Linked DNA regions of Homo sapiens. The protein of the gene in region 3 purifies or fractionates together with the protein of the main gene of each other region. This does not show direct contact. Each region holds a gene or a part of one and is shown on either strand. Other genes may lie near its edges.

Region 1 (7,027 bases), on a different chromosome or scaffold from region 3:
TCCTTTCCTTTACTGTGCATCTAACTAATTCTTTCCAACTAAAATATAAAGAACTCATCATTATTCTAAACTCCCATTTATCTAAAACATAATACTTTGACAAAGTTCACAGATATCACTAGTCCAGAAATTCTTTGAGATGTGTTAGGGAAAATAATAGGTACCACCTAGTAACTAACAAGTTTGAGTTTTCAATTACTTAAACCTATCCCTGACCTTGTGATCCGCCCGCCTGGGCCTCCCAAAGTGAAACCCTGTCTCTACTAAAAATACAAAAAAAATTTAGCCGGGCATGGTGGTGTGATCCTGTAATCCCAGCTACTCAGGAGGGCTGAGGCAGGAGAATCTCTTGAACCCGGGAGGCGGAGTTTGCAGTGAGCCGAGATCGTGCCACTGCACTCCAGCTTGAGCGACAGAGCGAGACTCTGTCTCAAAACAAAACAACAACAAAATAAAACAAGACCAAAAAAACCTATCTGGGCGTATTTTGGATCAGCTAACCAATGTACTCAATCTGATAATCTGTTTTTTAAATTTCCTTCTTATTTTATTTTTTGAGACGGAGTCTCAAAAACTCAGCCTTGCTCTGTCGCCCAGGCTGGAGTGCAATGGCGTGATCTTGGCTCACTGCAACCTCCACCTCGCGAGTTCAAGCCATTCTCCTGCTTCAGTCTCCCTAGCAGCTGGGACCACAGGTGTGCATCACCATGCCCGGCTAATTTTTGTATTTTTAGTAGAGATGTGGTTTCACCACGTTGGCCAGCCTGGTCTTGAACTCCTGACCTCAGGTGATCCGCCTGCCTCGGCCTCCCAAAGTGCTGGGATTACAGGCGTGAGCCACCGTGCCCGGCCGATAATCTGTTTCTTTCTTTCCTTTTTTTTTTCTTTGAGACGGAGTCTAGCTCTGTTTCCCAGGCTGGAGTGCAGTGGCGCGATCTCCGCTCATTGCAAGCTCCGCCTCCTGGGTTCACGCCATTCTCCTGTCTCAGCCTCTGGAGTAGCTGGGATTACAGGCACCCACCACCACGCCCGGCTAATTTTTTTGTATTTTTAGTAGAGACGGAGTTTCACCATGTTAGCCAAGATGGTCTCGATCTCCTGATCTCGTAATCTGCCCACCTCGGCCTCCCAATGTGCTGGGATTACAGGCGTGAGCCACCATACCCGGCCGGTAATCTGTTTCTTAAACTATAGGATCCTAAAAGAGTATCTTAGAATTCAGACACAAAGAATGGGGCTCTACTATTATTTTTATTGAAAATAATTTTTGTTGCCCTAAATTAAGATGACAGTTCCCAAAAAGGCTCACTTTGAAAATGGCCAAAGGGTAATGCCTAGGCCTGTCAAAGTTTACTTCTGAAATCAACAGTCAGGTTTTACAATAGGAAGTTCATATTTTTGTTCTGAAAGATTTTTCCTTAGTTCTCTTAAATCTCATAATTTCTACCATGAAAAAATGAGTCAACTAGATTCATCAATAAAACCAGAACTTTCATATCATTGCTTCCTTTGTCTTGACAATTATTTTTTAAATCAAGGCTACAGACTTTTAAATAGTTTTCTTCCTTTAAAAATATGTATTTCACCTGGACAAAAGAAAACATATATGCTTTTAAGTAAATACTGGCTTTCTAACAATCAAGACAGGCCAAGGAAAATTGCCATGTTAGTCTTCAAATCTTTGGGAAACCATAAATTCAAAAAGGAACCAAAGAAATCCAACAACTGTAGGTTACACTTGCCCTTAGAATTGCCAATTGCTATAGATTGATTTAGTCAACAAAAAAGTAGTGATTTTTATATCCTGAAGTGATGGCTAAATGCCATACTGTACTTACCTCCAAATAGTTCCAAATCTCTTAAGCCCTCAACAATGAACTTTTCCGAGACCCACCGCTAAAGAGGAAAACCCCAAAGAGAATTAGTATTTCTTCCAAGCCGCAACAAATTAGCTATCAGCCTTTAGACAGACAAACAAAATCCCAACTATGAAAACAGAATCATGCAGTACAGTTAGGAATCATTTCTATGGAAAAGTTTTTAACAGAATCTTGAACTAAAAACAAGATTCCTTTCTCCACTCCTCTTTGCCTATTTGATGAATAATTCTTAAATTTGACAGATGAGAAATAGATAGTACTGGCTGTAATAATGAAGACTGTTTTTGCCTTCCCTATATTGGTTCCATCTTACTCGTTCTACATTACAGATGCCTTGGATCACTGATGTCAATTTGAAAACTATTACTGGAATTCATAACACAGAAAACAGAGATGAAACAGTAGTTATTCACAAGACCCTGTTAGTTTGTAAAATGGCACACAACAAGTTGCATATTCTTTATCCACTAGGGGTTCTAAAGACATGGCTGCTTACATTTTCTGCCAAGTTCACAAGGGCCAAACTAGTAAGACCAAACTAGCAGGATCAATCTATGGCTCACTTTACTGGCCTATTTCAAACGAGTATTAGATTTCTGTCATTCTGATCAGTGGTTTCGTTTCACCTGAATTAGGCTACGTTGAAGCAGACAAGGAGCTCATATTTAAAAGCAATGGAATCAAGATTGTATTTCCCTTAAGGACTGGTGTTACACTTTGGCTTGGGGGCATTCTTTCCACTGGGCAGAGTTCAGGCTATGGAGAGATTCCTTTTTTCCTCTTAATTAACAGTGAAGTTTACTCTTTCTAATATAAATTGTTCTTATATGCATAAACATTAGAAAAAAGATTAAGTAACATTCAGAAATAAGTTGCATGATACAGACTGTGAATTGGAACTATAGCATCTTCTGCCCTTACCTATAACTATTTTTTCCAAATCAAAAAAGAAGTAATATCCTAAATTGAAAACTTCATAAAAATTATATGCACTGCATCAAAAAACATAAATTATGCTTTAATATGTAAAGAAAGTGGTATACTCATAATATCTCATAGCACTTATACACTGTTACAAAATTCTAAAATAATTACAACTGCATTTAGAAATTAGGTACTTGATAATAAAGAAAATAAGAAACTCATGAAATAATGGGAATTTGTAAAGAAGCTAAATCTAGTATTGTTTTTGAAATCATTTTATCTGACGAAGTTTTGAAGTATAATAAAATCTTTCATGTTCAAAATGTCTTCAATTAAAACTAATGATATTACTTAGAAAAAAGTGTCCTAGTAATTACAACTTGATTTTGAAAACTCACAACCTCACGGGGGGTCATAAGCAGTTAAACGTCTACACTTAAAAGTATCATCGACTCATTTAATGTTGTATGACTGATATTCATGAAATAAGCCACTTTCTTCTTATTTCTTCTCTATCAGACAAGCTGGTGGTAAATTTTGTGTCTCTGGTCAGCCTCTGTCTGCAAACTCTTCTCAGGAGTGGAGGCTGCACTACCTGCCTTACTTCCTACATCCCTCACTTCCGTATCATTCCGACCCTCACGTAGAAAACCACCTACAACATCTGCCAAAATACACTGCTTTTCAGAAAACAAAAATAGTAAAGCCAGAAGAATAGAAAAACACTCACCCTGATTCGCTCTGGTTTACTTACAAGAAATGACATGAGTTCCTACTGTGTAGGCCTACTTCAGTTTCAAAAACTTAAACCTAAAAGGAAAATAGAAACAGGTTGAGTTAGCAAAAATCTCCTTATAGAGAAATATCTTCTGATTAACAAAAACTTATTACAGGTCTACCATTCAAAGCACTGGACTTCACCTATAAATTGCTAGATTTGTTTAGAGAAACTTTAAGTGATGATAAATCTGAATATACTTTGGCCAAGTACATTATAAAATTCTGTAATTTCTGGCCAGATGTGGTGGTTCACGTCTGTAATCCCAGCACTTTGGGAGGCCGAGGCGGGCGGATCACCTGAGGTCAGGAGTTCGAGACCAGCCTGGCCAACATGGTGAAACCCCATCTCTATAAAAAAAAAAAAAAAAAAAAAAAAAGCCAGGCAAGGTGGCAGATGGCTGTAATCCCACCTACTTAAGAATCGTTTGAACCCAGGAGATGGAGATTGCAGTGAGCCAAGATCACGCCATTGCATTCCAGCCTGGGTGACAGAGTGAGACTGTCTCAAAAAAAAAAAAAATTTTAATTAATTAATTTCTGTAGAAAGAGAAATTTGTCATTATATGGTTTTAAATTAATTCCTAAATTTCTCTTGACTTAATCCCCCACTAACCTTTTCCCAGAAGCAATTACCTTCAGTTATTTTCCATGGTTATCCTGCTTTTTATTTATTTACTTCTTATAGAGACAGGGTCTCTCTATGTGGCCCAGGCTGGTCTGGAACTCCTGGACTCAAGCGATCCTCCCATCTTGGCCTCCCAAAGTGTGGGGGTTACCACGTGAGCCACCATGCACAGTGTTATCCTGCTTTTTAATAATTATTCTTAAACAATGTTTATATGGGTATGACTTAATTTTAGACTTTTAAAATTTTCTTTACTGCTCCTTGCAGAGCAGGGCTAACTCATAGACAATGTACCCAGAGTCAGCCAGTTTTAACTTCCTACTATGGTAGATGAAGATGAAGCTTCTTATAGCATCATCTTCCACTGTATCTCCTGCTCTCATTCTACCAACATAGCTCTGGCATAATTTGGTTAAATCAATAGTCCACATTTATATTATTATGACTATGCAAATATGGTTCAGAGCTGAGGCAAATAGAAATAACTATGTCTCAGCCAGGCCTGGTGGCTCAAGCCTGTAATCCCAGCACTTTGGGAGGCTGAGGTGGGTGGATCACTTGAGGTCAGGAGTTCGAGACTAGCCTGACCAACATGGTAAAACCCTGTCTCTACTAAAAATACACAAAAAAATTAGCCAGGCATGGTGACAGGCACCTATAGTCCCAGCTACTCAGGAGGCTGAGAAAGAAGAATTGCTTGAACCCAGGAGGCAGAGGTTGCAGTGAGCCAAGGTCGCGCCACTGCACTCCAGCCTGGGTGACAGAGCTAGACTCCATCTCAAAACAAACCAAAAAAAACAACAAAAAAAAAACCATGTCTCTTTTCCTTTTCCTTTTTTTTTTTTTGAGATGGAGTTTCACTCTTGTTGCCCAGGCTGAAGTGCAGTTGCACGATCTTGACTCACTGCAACCTCCGCCTCCCAGGTTCAAGTGATTCTCCTGCCCCAGCCTCCAGAGTAGCTGGGATAACAGGTGCCTGCCACCATGCCTGGCTAATTTTTGTATTTAGTAGAGATGGCGTTTCACCATGTTGGCCAGGCTAGTCTCGAACTCCTGACTTCAGATGATCCACCCGCCTCGGCCTCCCAAAGTGCTGGGATTATAGGCATGAGCCACTGTGCCCAGACAATGTCTCTCTTTCCTTATACACCTATTTTTTCCTAGAGTTAATAACTGCCTCATTTGTTCACTTGCTTGGTTTCCCATATAGCTATTATTAACTTTTTACAAACACGCCAACATCTCTGCTATTTGCCTTATCAATGTATTTTTCCATACCCTCAAACCCATCAATTAGAATTTTCTCCTGGAAGTTGCCTTCATAGGGCCCTCCGGTCTCCTGCTACAATCTGGACTAACTGCTTTTTAGGCCAGTTGCACTTAGTTGACTTTTTTTTTTTTTTTTGAGGCGGGGTCTGGCTCTGTCATCCAGTCTGGAGTGCAGTGATGTGATCTCTGCTCACTGCAACCTCTGCCTCCAGGGCTCCAACCATCCTCCCACCTCAGCCTCCTGAGTAGCTGGAACTACAGGTACATGCCATCATGCCTAATTTTTGTATTTTTTGTAGAGACGGGCTTTGCATTGTTGCCCAGGCTGGAGTGTGGTGGCGCGATCCTGGCTCACTGCAACCTCTGCCTCCCAGGTTCAAGTGATTCTCTGGCTTCAGCCTCCCGAGTTACTGGGACTATAGGTACGCGCACCACTACACCTGGCTAATTTTTTTGTATTTTTAGTAGAGACAGGGTTTCACTATGTTGGCCAGGCTGGTCTCGAACCCTTGATCTCAGGTGATCCACCCACCTTAGGCTCCCAAAGTGTTGGGATTACAGGTGCGAGCCACTGCGCCTGGTCTCAAGCTCTTGAGCTCAAGCAATTGTCTGCCTCAGCCTCCCAAAGTGCTAGGATTACAGGTGTGAGCCACTGCGCCTGGCCCTACCCTGATATTCTTTTTTTTTGAGATGGAGTCTCGCTCTGTTGCCAGGCTGGAGTGCAGCGGTGATCTTGGCTCACTGCAACCTCCGACTCCCAGGTTCCAGCGATTCTCCTGCCTCAGCCTCCTGAGTAGCTGGGACTACAGGCGTGCGCCACCACACCCTGCTAAGTTTTGTATTTTTAATAGAGACGGGGTTCCACCATGTTGGCCAGGATGGTCTCGATCTCCTGACCTCGTGATCTGCCCGCCTCGGGCCTTCCAAAGTGCTGGGATTACAGGCGTGACTCACTGCACCTGGCCCTGATATTCTTTCCTTTTTTTTTTTTTTTTTTTTTTTCTGAGACGGAGTCTTGCCATGTCACCAGGCTGGAGTGCAGTGGCGTGATCTCAGCTCACTGCAACCTCCGCCTCCTGGGTTCAAGTGATTCCCCTGCCTCAGCCACCCCAGTAGCTGGGATTACAGGCATGCGCTACCACACCCAGCTAATTTTTTGTATTTTTTTAGTAGAGGCGGGGTTTCACCATGTTGGCCAAGATGATCTCGATCTCCTGACCTCGTGATCCGTCCGCCTTGGCCTCCCAAAGTGCTGGGATTACAGGCATGAGCCACCGCGCCTGGCCGGCCCTGATATTCTTATAGAAGCTCCTTTTCCAACCCCAGCTGAGAATCACTCATTTATCTTGTCACAAAATTTTAAAAATATAGATTTGAAAAAACATGATTAGAATGCATATTTAATAGTATTAAACACAAAGCATCATGCAAAAGAAATTTAAGAGGAAAAAAGGTCCATATCCTCATGTAGTCTACAATAGAAAGAGAAAATTAGTGTAAAGAGGCAGATAGATGTTTTTATCTGCAAAAAAAGTTTCTATGGTCTGGA
Region 2 (6,106 bases), on a different chromosome or scaffold from region 3:
CTAGTAATTCAGTAAAGTGACGTATCTCAGATAGTTTTCACAAAATATAGTGAAGACACACAATACAGAATGGTTTATTTGCAAGGTGTTGAGAAATGGTTCACGCAAGTCAAATCACTTTTGAGCCGTGTTTTGAAAAATGAGTAGATATTTACTGGCAATTGGGTTTGGGAGAGGCGAACAGACCATTCCAGATGTTATTTCACTTTTATTCTTTAGATACTGATTTAACACCTCTGTACCAACTACTATGATACAGATGCTAGAGATATGCTAAATGAAACAGCACATCCATAAAATGTATAGTGTGATGGAGTGGAGCACATCGTAAACAAAAGTCTAGAGGAAACTGAAAGTAAGGGAAGAGGTACAGAAAATTGAGGCTACAGAAGGGGCAAGGCCCAAATCATGAGGTTTTCCATATGCAGTAAGGAGTTTGGAATCCATCTTAGCAATAGCACTTGAGGTGTAGTGGAAATAATCAAGATTAGAGACAGGGACTTGGAATAACTCAGGCAATAAATAATGAGAGCCTAAACTAAAATGATAGCATAAGGGTGTGAAAAGGTTGGGGGGGCAGGGGGTGGGACATGTTAATGATACTTAAAAGGACAGAACCAACTGGGCACAGTGGCTCACACCTGTACTTCCAGCTGCTCTGGAGGCTAAGGCAGGAGTATCACTTGAGTCTGGAGTTGGAAACCAGCCTAGGCAATGTAGTAAGACCGTATCTCTATAAAAAGGGTGGAACCAACAGGACTGGGTCATTGATTTAATATGGGGGTTGAAAGTAAAGTGAAATATGATGGGTGCTCAGGATTCTGATTTGGGTGGGTGACTACCTTTCACTGAGGTAAGTTATATAGGAAATGGTTTCTGGAAAACATTAGTAAGGTCAGTTTTTAAACACTGAATCCAAGGTTGTCTTCTGGAATATCCAAATTGGTTATGACCAGAATGTGATTCATTATACTAAGCTAAAGGAATAGATTAAAGAATTAGCAACAGTGGCCGGGTGCAGTGGCTCATGCCTGTAACCCCAGCACTTTGGGGGAGGCCCAGGTGGGTGGATCATTTGAGGTCAGGAGTTTGAGACCAGCCTGGCCAACATGGTGAAACCTAAAAATACAAAAATTAGCCAGGTGTGGTGGCAGGTGCTTGTAATCCCAGCTGCTTGGGAGGCTGAAGCAGGAGAATTGCTTGAACCCGGAGGCAGGGGTTGCAGTGAGCCAAGATCACACCATTGCACTCCAGCCTGGGTGGCAGAGTGAGACTCTGTCTCAAAAATTAAAAAGCAACAGTGTATATGCAATAGTTGCAAGATGTAAGATCACCCAAAGAGTATGCAGAGGGAAATGAGGGACAGAACCCAGAAATATTAATACCCAGGGAGTGAACAGGAGGAGGACCCCAAGAAGTTACTGAGTCAGATTTTTCCCACTCATCCAGGTGAAAGTTTAGGTCAATAATGTGAAATACCAGAGGGATTAAATGTCTACAGAAATAAAACCATGTCTCACATTAAGACAAACAAGTAGGTTGGAGGGATATTTTGAAAGGCAAGGTGATATTAAACTTTATTCTGAAAGTAGTTTGTTAGAGAAAGAGGCATGATAAGAGTTGCAGTTAACTGATTGGAAACTATGCAGCAGATGAAACTGGAATAAAGGAAACTCATCAGGAAATGATTATAGTAATAAGGGCCAGAAATAAGGGCTTGCTTGCCTGAACTAAAAACAAAGAGGATACAAAGGTTCTAGAAATATTTCAAAGGAATTAGCTTTAATTCAGCAATACTCATTGAGAATCACCTATGCACCTGGCTCTGAAGATGAAGTGCTGAGTAAACTTAGACATGGACCCTGCTATCATGGAGATGGCAGATTATTGGTCAGAATGCTCTTACCTGTCATTGTAGCAATTTTGTTAGATCCTTAATACCTCTGAATTGCTAATAAACTTGTTTTGGCTGAAAAAATAGTCCTGTGAATTTTACCATGCAGTTAAATAAGAAACTAAAAGCAAACCTAAATACCACCAAAAAGGTTAGTAGTCTGTTATATGCATTAGCCTTAATCTAAGGAAATATTTTATTATAGGTCTCCTTGAAGAAAATGATATTTTCAGGAATGCTCAAGCAGGTGTTCTCATCAGCACTAATAGTCATCCAATCTTAAGGAAAAACAGAATATTTGATGGATTTGCCGCAGGTTTGTATTTTCTTTTCTTACCTGTGGCTTATATATAGTTCTGCAAAGTGTTTGATGTGGAGTATATTCATTTTGTTTTGCTTATTAACTAAAATGTGCAAAGTGTGCTGAAGTGGCTGAATGCCTGTTCATTCACTTACAAGAGCACCTAATCAAGTTCTGGATTCTTCTACTCTAAGCCAGACTCCTAAGAAATATTGCTCTTATTGCTTAGTCGTGATTATGAAACATTTATTGGGATAGAATAAATGCAGGCTTGTATTACCACTAGGAATACAGATAGATTCAATTCCTCAGATGAATTTACCAGTTTAAATCTGCAACAGAAAAAGAGATGTTAAAATGGATGCAAATGAAATCCAAGTATCATGTATTTAAACTTTAAGACAGTTAGGTTGGTGCGAAAGTTAATTGCAGTTTTGACCATAGTCATTGATAAGTGAATGTTACTGTTGGTGGTTGAAATAGGTATCTACATTTTATTCAGTAGACATTAAGAGGGTTAATGTACTTCTATAAAAGAAGCAGTTTACATTTGCTTGCTAATTTCAGGTTTTTAAGAAGCAGTATAAAGTGATGTATCTACTTGTTTGTAAATTTTACTTCAGGTATTGAAATTACAAATCACGCAACTGCAACACTAGAAGGCAATCAGATTTTTAACAACCGGTTTGGAGGCTTATTTTTAGCATCTGGTGTTAATGTGACAATGAAAGGTATGTTGGAGTCTGCTATACCTATAAATATATGCAATATGCCATGAAAGATAATCAGAAGCCGTTTTATAACTTGATTCCTTATGTCACTCTCCAAGTTAGCAACAGTTTAAGATAGATTTTGAAAGAAACAGAGCTTTGGTTCTAAATGGTTGGAGTATCTTATACAAGGAAAATTCTATTCTTAGCTGATTTCTTACAATTACTTCATTGGTTAGCTTCATTTAAAGCTCTTAAAAATAGTGGCTCTTCTGTTAGAATAATCCTATAATCTTTGGTTTTTAAAATATTAACATTCCTCTGAATTTTTACTTATTCTTTCTTTTATTACAGATAACAAAATAATGAACAATCAAGATGCCATAGAAAAGGCTGTTAGTAGAGGCCAATGTTTATATAAAATATCAAGTTATACCAGCTATCCCATGCATGATTTCTACAGGTAACTTAGAAATATATTTGAGTCCTGAAAAGAGGAAGACTGATTTCCTTTTTAAATTAGCAATGCCTAGCATTTTTGGCTATTTGCCGGTGTTGAGACTATAACTAACTGAAAATTTTATCATCAATCTACTTGAAGATCGTGTTTAAGACTGTAACTGTGGGTAGGCGTGGTGGCTTATGCCTGTAATCCTAGCACTTTGGGAGGCTGAAGTGGGAGGATCACTGGAGCCCAGGAGTTCTAAACCAGCCTGGGCAACATAGGGAGACCCTGTCTCTACAAAACAAAACAAAGACCATAACTATGGAAAAACCTAATGCTACAGTAACTGATGTCATTCATGTAACTCATGTTGTGTAATGTTTTCCTAGAAATTTCAAGGTAAAGATGTCGGGGTTAAGTGTTTGATATATCCCAGTCACTGTGACAGTTTTGACTCTTCACGCCTCCAAAAATTGTTTTCAGCCCAGAAACATTTGAGAGGCTTTTAAAGTGGAAAGAACTGCCTTTATACAATTTACAAATCATTTCTCTTCCCTCCGAAGACACAGATGACAGGAAAATCACTTACTCCATTAAAGTTCCTTTTCAGAATTAATCTGGGCTGGAGCCACAAAGAATTTTGTTTTGGTCCTCTTAAAGCCAAAGGTCATAGTAATATATAAACAGAATGGAATGTTTTGCATTAATGACATGTTTGAGAAAAGTAATTTAAGCTTTTGCTTTTTAGATGTCATACTTGTAACACCACAGATCGAAATGCCATATGTGTGAACTGCATTAAGAAGTGCCATCAGGGACATGATGTAGAGTTTATTAGACATGATAGGTATGTAGCACACTTGCTTGATATATTACCCAATTACTTTCCCCCTCACTTTTCTAATATTTGGGTTTCATTTTGCTTTAGGTTTTTCTGTGACTGTGGTGCTGGAACACTGTCTAATCCTTGTACATTAGCTGGTGAGCCTACACATGATACAGATACACTATATGACTCTGCTCCACCTATAGAATCTAATACATTGCAGCACAACTGAATTCCTTCCCTAAAGAAAAAGTCCTGCCATTGTAACATCATAACTTAAAACACTTTTTTGGAAGAAGATTTAAAATATTTGCCCATGCTACAGGAAGAGACTGTATTAAAAATGGATACACAAGGTCAGTTGACACTATGAAGCTCAAGCTACCAAAAAGAAAGTGGCAATATATTGACTCAGGATCTCAAAGCTGGGTGTTTTAGCATTACTGTGTAAAGACTTGAAGGGACAGAAGTGAAGAAAATAAGCTGCAATTTTGTACAGATACCAACTTCTGAAAAGCTGGTGTTTTTACAACTAGCATTGAATGCAGTCCAATTTGCAGTAGTAATCTTCAATAGACAAGCAGCTTTGTTGCTGCCTTTATGGACATGGGTACCAATTGCTTTTGTAATATGGTAAAAATGTGAGCTAGCACTTCTGCGTTCCTTTTGATTTTTTTTTTTTAACATGTATTCAGATTGAGAAATATGATTTTAATGCTTTAATCTCATGTAGTTTGTTTTTAATTTCAAGCAAAATCTTACTGTACTTGAATGTGCCCTGTTTTGTTAGCACACCTAGACTTGCTGTAACTGTACTCATGTCCCAGTATGTACGTTCTTTCTATGAAAGAGAAAACACTAATCTTAAATTATATCCAGCAATGTTTCTGGTATCCTTTAAGAAAAGTTAAGACTATTATTTCCTTCCCTTCCCTGTGCAGCATTCAAAATCACCCCTAGAAAAAGTGAGTGTTTTAATGAGACTTCCTAGGAAGGGATGCACTGTAAAACAAAAGTATTCTTGTAACTCAGTTTTGTGAAAGGTAAAAAACTACTATGTTTTAAGTACACTTTAGAAAGTCTCTTCAAAACAAACAGTCCTGTATTTGAACTCTGTTCATAGTTTTTTTTTGAACAGTTTAGACAAAACTGCTGGAAATTAAACCAATTTCCTGCATTAAGCTGAGACAAGTATATATACAGCCCTATACAGTTTCATAGCTTTTCCTCCCCCATTTATGTGTATTGGTGACAGTGGGTATAAAACAGCCTGAAAGTGTATGCATGTACCATAACATCTAGACTTAATATATTGTGGAGTATTCAATAACCATTATGTAGAAGGTAGATAAGAATTAAAAGGGTTTAATTTCCTAGAAAGAAAATGGAAAAATGGTCATTTTTAAAAAATAAAGTTTATTAGATCATAATGTTGTCTGAATTTACCACCTTTGTCAGAAGTCAACTCAAAGCTTCCAATGTAGTCAGTCTATAATTCCTTAATCAAAGTCAGCAATTTATGGACAGCTTCAGCATCTACAGTTGACCTTTCACTAGCCAGGCAAACTTCCCTTAAAATTAAAAAAAAAAAAAAAAAAGTTTTTTTGTTTTTTCATAGTGCATCATCCCTTCCCCTTTTACTGTTTCTTTGAAACTTAAGGTCAGTTAGTTATAATTCCATTATAGTTAGTTAGTTACCGAAATAATCGTAGTGACTGATTCATCTTCTCAAATTCTCTTGCTTTTCTATGTCCCTTTTGAATAACTTCCTCTGGGAGATTAGCAAGCCTTGCTGCATTAAAGCCATAGCTTTTAGGACAAGCTCCCTTAATGAATTTATAGAGGAACGTAATAGTCTCCTGGCTGGGGTCTTCACATTCATTTTCTACCATGCATGCCTTAAGAAAGAAAAATATTAGCGATACATGTG
Region 3 (6,978 bases):
CTCCCAAGCCGGCCAGTCTTGGGGTAATTTTATCTTTTCCTGCAGCAATGTAAACATTTTGAAAGTACAGATTAAGGCTGGCCGCGGTGGCTCACGCCTGTAATCCCAGCACTTTGGGAGGCTGAGGCGGGCAGATCACAAGGTCAGGAGATCGAGACCATCCTGGCTAACATGGTGAAACCCCGTCTCTACTAAAAATACAAAAAATTAGCCGGGCGTGGTGGCGGGCGCCTGTAGTCCCAGCTACTCGGGAGGCAGGAGAATGGCGTGAACCCGGGATGTGGAGTTTGCAGTAAGCTGAGATCCCACCACTGCACTCCAGCCTGGGCAAGAGCCAGATTCTGCCTCAAAAAAAACAAAAAACAAAAAAAATTACCCCAAGACCAACTACCTAAAAATAGTTTACATATTCGATACCTTCTCTTCTAGACTTTTTTCATCTCTGTGTACTGTTTTTTTGTTTGTTTGTTTTGGTTTTGGTTTTTTTTTTTGAGACAGAGTCTTGCTCTGTCCCCCAGGCTGGAGTGCAGTGGCAATGACCTCTGCTCACTGCAAGCCCTGCCTCCTGGGTTCGTGCCATTCTCCTGCCTCAGCCTCCCGAGTAGCTGGGACTACAGGCACCCGCCACCACGCCCAGCTAATTTTTTTGTATTTTTAGTAGAGACAGGGTTTCACTTTGTTCGCCAGGATCTCCTTACCTTGTGATCCGCCTGCCTGGGCCTCTCAAAGTGCTGGGATTACAGGCGTGAGCCACCGCGCCCGGCCCCGTCTGTGTACTGTTACAGAAGCTACTTTTTTTTTTTTTTTTTTTTTTGAGACAGAGTCACCCTCTGTTGCCCAGGCGGAGTGCAGTGGCAGGATCTCGGCTTACTGCAACCTCTGCCTCCCAGGTCCAAGCAAGTCTCCTGCCTCAGCCTCCTGAGTAGCTGGGGCTACAGGTTCAGGCCACCACGCCCGACTAATTTTTTTTGTATTTTAGTAGAGATGGGGTTTCACCATATTGCCCAGGCTGGTCTCAAACTCCTGAGCTCAGGCAATCTGCCCGCCTCAGCCTCCCAAGAAGCTACATTCTTTTGAGCATTTACTATGTACCAGGTACTATGCTAAACACTTTTACTTCATGATTTTCAGAACAACCCAATGAAGGTACTTCCCCTTTATAAATGAGAAAATTGAGGCTGCGAGGTTAGGCTCTTAGTGATATAATTGCTCTATTTTTTTATAAGCAAAAAATACCACAGAAATTAATTTTTAGCTCAAGTGCAGCAGCTTATCATGGCCCATTGCAGCTTTGACCTCCCAGGGTTCAAGCAGTCCTCCCAGCTCAGCCTCCTGAGTAGTTGGAACTACATGCCTGTGCCACTATCCCGGGCTCATTTGTTTTTGTAGAGTTAGGGGTGTCACTTTATTGCCAGGGCTCAAGCAATCTGCCCACCTTGGCCTCCCAAAGTGCTGTGATTATAGGTATGAGCCAGCATGCCTGGCCTAGTTTTGTAATTTGATAATATATCAGTAATATTTTTGTCCCCTCTCTTCCTCCATCCCAGGCTGGGCTTGGAGCCCACAGGACCCTAGAAGTCCTTTAAGAACATTTAACGCTGGACTCAGCTGGGGGCAGGACCAGGATGAAGAAGATGCTTGTTGGATTCTTGAGGACACAGCATGTCTGGAAGCCACCAACCACTGTCCCTTCTGGGACTCAACAGGCTCCCGTGTTTGTAGAAGTGGCTTTGTGGAATATTCCCATCTCCTGCCTCCTAATAGCTTTGAGGGTAAGTATTGTTCCCTCCCCCTCAAATATCTCATCCAGGTTTATGAAGCTCCTTATACCCATCCTCTTACAATCTCCTTTTACAGGTGACAAAAATGAGGCTTACAGGTTAGGCCACTAGATTATACAAGTCAGTCAGCGCAGGGGTTTTGATTCAGTTCCTGTCTGCTGCTTTTAGGAGCTCCAGTTAGTTGAAACTGGGGAATGACCCAATTGTACCTTCTCTTTTCAGCATTCATTTTGTGCTAAATATTGCGCACATCATTGTATGTAATCTCCGTAACTCCAAGTTATTCTCACTCTGCAGATGAGTAAACTGGGGAACAGAAACATTCAGCAATATGGCACCCAGCTAGTAAATGTGGAAGCCAGGACTCAAATTCTCACTTTGCAGCCAGATAGCTTGCAAAGACAGTTCTTCAGCCCTCTCCTTGCCCACAGAAATACTAGGGTCAGGACTACTAAAATGTCTTTAATGAGAGCCTTGAATCAAGTAAGCAAAGTAGGTGATGCCCCTGAACGGGCCTAGCTCCTGCACAGTCACAGTCCAGCCATAGGACCCTTGTTCCAGGCAGGGCAGTCGCACATCAGGGTCCTCATCTGAGAACTGAATCAGGGTCCCCTGAGGGTTTAGAACCCTCAAGCATTCTGATAGAAGCTGGTAAGCCCTAGGCAGACCTCCCCGGGCAACAGCATCCCATGTGCCTTTGTCCAGCAGTAGTTGGAAAGAGCCTGAAGAAGCCACAGCCCCCAGGTTCTGAGCATCGGCGTGCATGAAGTGGAGGCTTGAGGCAGGGTGTCCAGGGCATAGAGGTGTTTGGCCTGGGCCACCCTCCAGGAGGCTATTCATGTGGGCCACAGCCACAGGAGAAAAGTCCACCCCCAGCACATCCACTGGGTGTGGAGATTTGGTGTAGAGGCCTGTACATAGGCTGGAAGTCCCACAGCCCACATCCAGCACTCGCAGAGGACTGGCAGCCTGTGCCTCCTGCAGCAATGGCAGTAGGAGCCCCTGGACTTCGTCGTATCCAAAGAACCAGTCGAAGGTGGGGACAGTGCCCAAACGAGGCTGGGCATGCAGCCGATCCCAGAGACAGCGGTCCGCCAGGCAACTATCAGCCAGTGAGCCTGTGGGCACGGTTGGAGGGTGTCACTTGGTCTATGTCGCCACTGCAAAAACGTCGTATATACACACTGGCGTCTTTTTTTTTTTTGAGACAGGGTCTCACTCTGTGACCCAGGGTTGAGTACAGTAGCACAATGATGGCTCACTGAAGCCTCCACCTCAGCCTCCTGAGTAGCTAGGACTATAGGCGCCATCGTGCCCGGTTAATTTTTTTTGTAGACAGGGTCTCGCTATGTTGCCCTAGGTTGGTCTCGAACTCCTGGGCCAAGCGATCTGCCCGCCTCGGCCTGGCAAAGTGTTAGCATTACAGCCGTGAGCCACCACGCACGGCCCACCGTAGGGTTTGAGAATCACAATTTCAGGGACTACACTCCTGACTCACGAGGAACCCACCTTACCCTCCCCACTCTGCCCCCACCTTGCCCTCTCCACTCTGCCCCCACCTCCCTACCCGCAAAGGGGCGGCACGTCCCCATCATCAGGCTCGGCAAGTGGAGCATTCGACGCAGCGCGGCCATCTGGAGATTCGGGTAAGTTCGACCAGAGAAGCTTATGTGAAGCGTCCACCCTACTCCAGCCGGAGAGGCCTGAGGTCCAGGGGAAGATCTGCAAATTCCGCGTAGCGAAAGGCGGCGTACAGCTTCCCCGAACTCTGCAGTCCCGGAAAAAAGAACGCGGACACAGACTATGGTAGGAACGGCCTTTATTGGCTGCAGCGGGAAGTGGAGGAGGGTATACAGCGTCCGCAGACCTGAAATCAAATGAGAAAGTGTGAGCACCCCGATGGAGGAGCCAGCTGGATCTCGGTTGTCCTTCTCCGAGATTCCCGGTGTCCCGGCGTTTGAGGATAGAACCAGCGGATGGGAAGCCGCCAGCACCGAAGACATGACGCCGAGGGGGCCAGAGCCCTTTCCCTCTTCCTCCGTACATTACGGGGAGCGGCACCACAAGCCCGATCCCCGCCAAGAAAAGGAGGGTCCTGAGACCCCGCCCAGAGCCTTCCACCCGGCACCCCCACCACTCCCGGCCGCCCAATCTGGCTACTACAGCTAAAACCACACTTACTAGCTCACCACCCTCCGAAAGGCCTCCCGCACCGCGGAGCTCCTTTATATAGCCCGAGGACCCGCCCCCGAGTTGCGATTGGCCCGCGGAAGGCCGGGGCGGAGCCCCGCGGATCCGGCGCTGAGCGGAAGTACGGACCGTGAACTGGAGTGGAATCGCGACTATGGGAGCTCCGGGGGGAAAGATCAACCGGCCCCGAACGGTGACTGTGTGGGGGCCGCGACTTTGTTTCCTCAAGCGTTCCTGAGCCCTTTTATCTCGCACGAGATGGGATCAGTGAGGGGCCGGGGCTGCCTGGTGGAGGGGCCCCGGGTCGCGGCGAGCCCACTCCATCTGATTCGCATCTTTCTCCCCGGCAGGAGCTGAAGAAGAAGCTGTTCAAACGCCGGCGGGTGTTGAATCGGGAGCGGCGTCTGAGGCACCGGGTGGTCGGGGCTGTGATAGACCAAGGGCTGATCACGCGGCACCACCTCAAGAAGCGGGCGTAAGTACTAGACCCTCTTCCTGTTGGTCGTCCCCACCGAGTCTTCCTTCCTCCCTGCAGAGCTCCGGAGCAGCTTCACCTCTCAGCTCACCTTGTGCACTGACGCTTATGCGGGGAATGTCTGTCGGCTGTTAGTTCCTAAGCTCTGATAGCCTCTCACAATACCTGTAGCAGACAACCTTTCTTTGGGTTTTGGATTCTGTTAAGAATCTCAGGAAAGCCGGGGATGGTGGCTCATACCTGTAATCCCAGCACTTTGGGGGGCTGAGGTGGGCGGATCACCTGAGGTCGGGAGTTCGAGACCAGCCTGACCAACATGGTGAAACCCCGTTTTTGCTAAAAATACAAAAATTAGCCAGGCGTTGTGGCCGGCACCTGTAGTCCCAGCTACACGGGAGGCTGAGGCAGGAGAATTGCTTGAACCTGGGAGGCGGAGGTTGCAGTGAGCCGAGATCACGCCACTGCACTCCAGCCTGGGCCACAGAGTGAGACTCCGTCTCAAAAAAAAAAAAAAAAAAAAAAGAATATCAGGAAATCTGTTGGCTCTCCATTCTCCAAGTAATGTTATACATTCACACAGATTTTTATAAGTAAACTTATTTTTACATACAGAAAAGTGCACACATAGGCGCATAAAACTCGAAGAATTTTCCCAAAGGCACTCATAGGATTTCACTTGTAAGTTTCAAGGCCTCCTGTGTCTTGAGGAAGAGTTCCCATCCCATTAATTACTTTCTGTGTCCTTTTTTTTTTTTTTTTTTTTTTTCCTCTTTTTTGAGACAGAGTCTCCCTCTGTTGCCCAGGCTGGAGTGAAGTGGCATGATCTCGGCTCACTGCAACCCCTGCCTCCTGGGTTTAAGCTATTCTCTTGCCTCAGCCTCCCGAGTAGCTGGGATTACAGGTGCTCCCCACTGCACCCGGCTAATTTTTGTATTTTTAGTAGAGACGGGGTTTCACCATGTTGGCCAGGCTGGTCTTGAACTCCTGACCTCAGGTGATCCGCCCACCTCAGCCTCCCAAAGTGTTGGGATTACAGGCATAAGCCACCGCCCCCGATCTATGTCCTTTCATTAGCTTCTTCAATGTAAATATTTAGGGTTTCTATTACTATTTATATTATATTTATTTAATACTTTTCCTTTTTTTTTTTTTTTTGAGACGGAGTCTCGCTTTGTCGCCCAGGCTGGAGTGCAGTGGCGCGATCTCGGCTCACTGCAAGCTCCGCCTTCTGGGTTCACGCCATTCTCCTGCCGCAGCCTCCCGAGTAGCTGGGACTACAGGCGCCCGCCACTGCGCCCAGCTAATGTTTTGTATTTTTAGTAGAGACAGGGTTTCACCGTGGTCTCGATCTCCTGACCTCGTGATCCAGCCGCCTCGGCCTCCCAAAGTGCTGGGATTACAGGCGTGAGCCACTGCGCCCAGCCTATTTAATACTTTTTCTATAGCCAGAACTATTTGTGTGACCTCAGTTGGTTCAGGTTAACCTAGCTCTCTTTATTTCCACTTACCCATCAGGTCCAGTGCACGTGCCAACATTACACTGTCAGGGAAGAAGCGCAGAAAACTCCTCCAGCAGATCCGGCTTGCCCAGAAAGAGAAGACAGCCATGGAAGGTGAGGCTGGGACAGAGGTGGGTGAGGGGAATCCTGGATTTATTTGGGATAATACTTCCTTCTTCCCTTTACTCAGTGGAAGCCCCTTCAAAGCCAGCCAGGACTAGTGAACCACAGCTCAAAAGGCAAAAGAAGACAAAAGCCCCCCAGGATGTAGAAATGAAGGACCTTGAAGATGAGAGCTAAACCTCTTCCACTAGAAGATTCTCAACTGGAGCCAGCCTTCAGACTCAGTGGTTGTTTCAGAGGACTTTGACAAAAGCAAGGCCCCTTTTCACTCTCCAGATTTCCTCCTACCTAATGGCCTACTGACCTCCCCTAGAGGGATGTCTTTGGGAGGGAAGAAGGTACAGAAGAAAGATTGGAGAAGGGCCTCTCTAGCAGTCAACTCCATTTGTAATAAAGCCCTAGCACTCTGAGATGTGTGTGATTAAATGTAGGAATGGGGATGGGTCATGAAAAGATTGGGGAGTATGGAAACAAGACAGTGAGGAAGCAGTACCCACAGCTTCCTTGTGCAAATGCAACAAGATGCCAGCCTCTGCCCTCAAGAGTGGTGGTGCCTGGCCGGGTGCAGTGGCTCACGCCTCTAATGCCAGCACTTTGGGAGGCCGAGGCAGGTGGATCACCTGAGGTCACAAGTTCGAGACCAGCCTGGCTAACCCCGTTTCTACTAAAAATACAAAAAATTAGCCGGGCGTGGTGGTGCACGCCTGTAATCCCAGCTACTTGGAGGCTGAGGCAGGAGAATCGCTTGAACCCGGGAGGCGGAGATTGCCTACCGGGGTATTGCTTGAGGCCAGGAACTCAAGGCTGTAGTGTGCTGTGATCTCATCTGTCTCCTTAGTGAGTGATACTCTAACTTTCCATTTATGACAAAGATACAGATTATTCGAGAAGTTGAAGTTACAGTGAGCCA

Evidence for each region.
Region 1: the proteins of LBHD1 (region 3) and STRADA purify together in Homo sapiens (affinity purification with mass spectrometry; 2 studies listed by BioGRID and IntAct, with this or other methods). This does not show direct contact.
Region 2: the proteins of LBHD1 (region 3) and FBXO11 purify together in Homo sapiens (affinity purification with mass spectrometry; 2 studies listed by BioGRID and IntAct, with this or other methods). This does not show direct contact.

What each region holds. Positions count from the first base shown.
Region 1 is NC_000017.11:63,724,800-63,731,826, forward strand, and holds part of STRADA (STE20-related kinase adapter protein alpha), read right to left. Parts: intron 3,615-7,027; 5' UTR 3,571-3,614; coding exon 3,535-3,570; intron 1,897-3,534; coding exon 1,839-1,896; intron 1-1,838. UniProt on the Homo sapiens protein: Pseudokinase which, in complex with CAB39/MO25 (CAB39/MO25alpha or CAB39L/MO25beta), binds to and activates STK11/LKB1.
Region 2 is NC_000002.12:47,806,420-47,812,525, reverse strand, and holds the end of FBXO11 (F-box only protein 11), read left to right. Parts: intron 1-2,099; coding exon 2,100-2,210; intron 2,211-2,424; exon of another isoform or gene 2,425-2,527; intron 2,528-2,818; coding exon 2,819-2,926; intron 2,927-3,259; coding exon 3,260-3,368; intron 3,369-3,939; exon of another isoform or gene 3,940-4,003; intron 4,004-4,098; coding exon 4,099-4,197; coding exon of another isoform or gene 4,198-4,278; coding exon 4,279-4,408; 3' UTR 4,409-5,606; downstream 5,607-6,106. Other genes in the region: DNA mismatch repair protein Msh6, read right to left, coding at 5,666-5,747, 5,875-6,074. UniProt on the Homo sapiens protein: Substrate recognition component of a SCF (SKP1-CUL1-F-box protein) E3 ubiquitin-protein ligase complex which mediates the ubiquitination and subsequent proteasomal degradation of target proteins, such as DTL/CDT2, BCL6, SNAI1 and PRDM1/BLIMP1.
Region 3 is NC_000011.10:62,662,317-62,669,294, reverse strand, and holds the end of LBHD1 (LBH domain-containing protein 1), read left to right. Parts: intron 1-1,186; exon of another isoform or gene 1,187-1,547; coding exon 1,548-1,772; exon of another isoform or gene 1,773-2,243; coding exon of another isoform or gene 2,244-2,899; intron 2,900-3,348; coding exon of another isoform or gene 3,349-3,784; exon of another isoform or gene 3,785-3,983; intron 3,984-4,078; exon of another isoform or gene 4,079-4,125; coding exon of another isoform or gene 4,126-4,164; exon of another isoform or gene 4,165-4,321; coding exon 4,322-4,446; intron 4,447-5,961; coding exon 5,962-6,059; intron 6,060-6,135; coding exon 6,136-6,166; coding exon of another isoform or gene 6,167-6,245; 3' UTR 6,246-6,478; downstream 6,479-6,978. Other genes in the region: CSKMT (citrate synthase-lysine N-methyltransferase CSKMT, mitochondrial), read right to left, coding at 2,244-2,899, 3,349-3,784; uncharacterized protein C11orf98, read left to right, coding at 4,126-4,164, 4,322-4,446, 5,962-6,059, 6,136-6,245.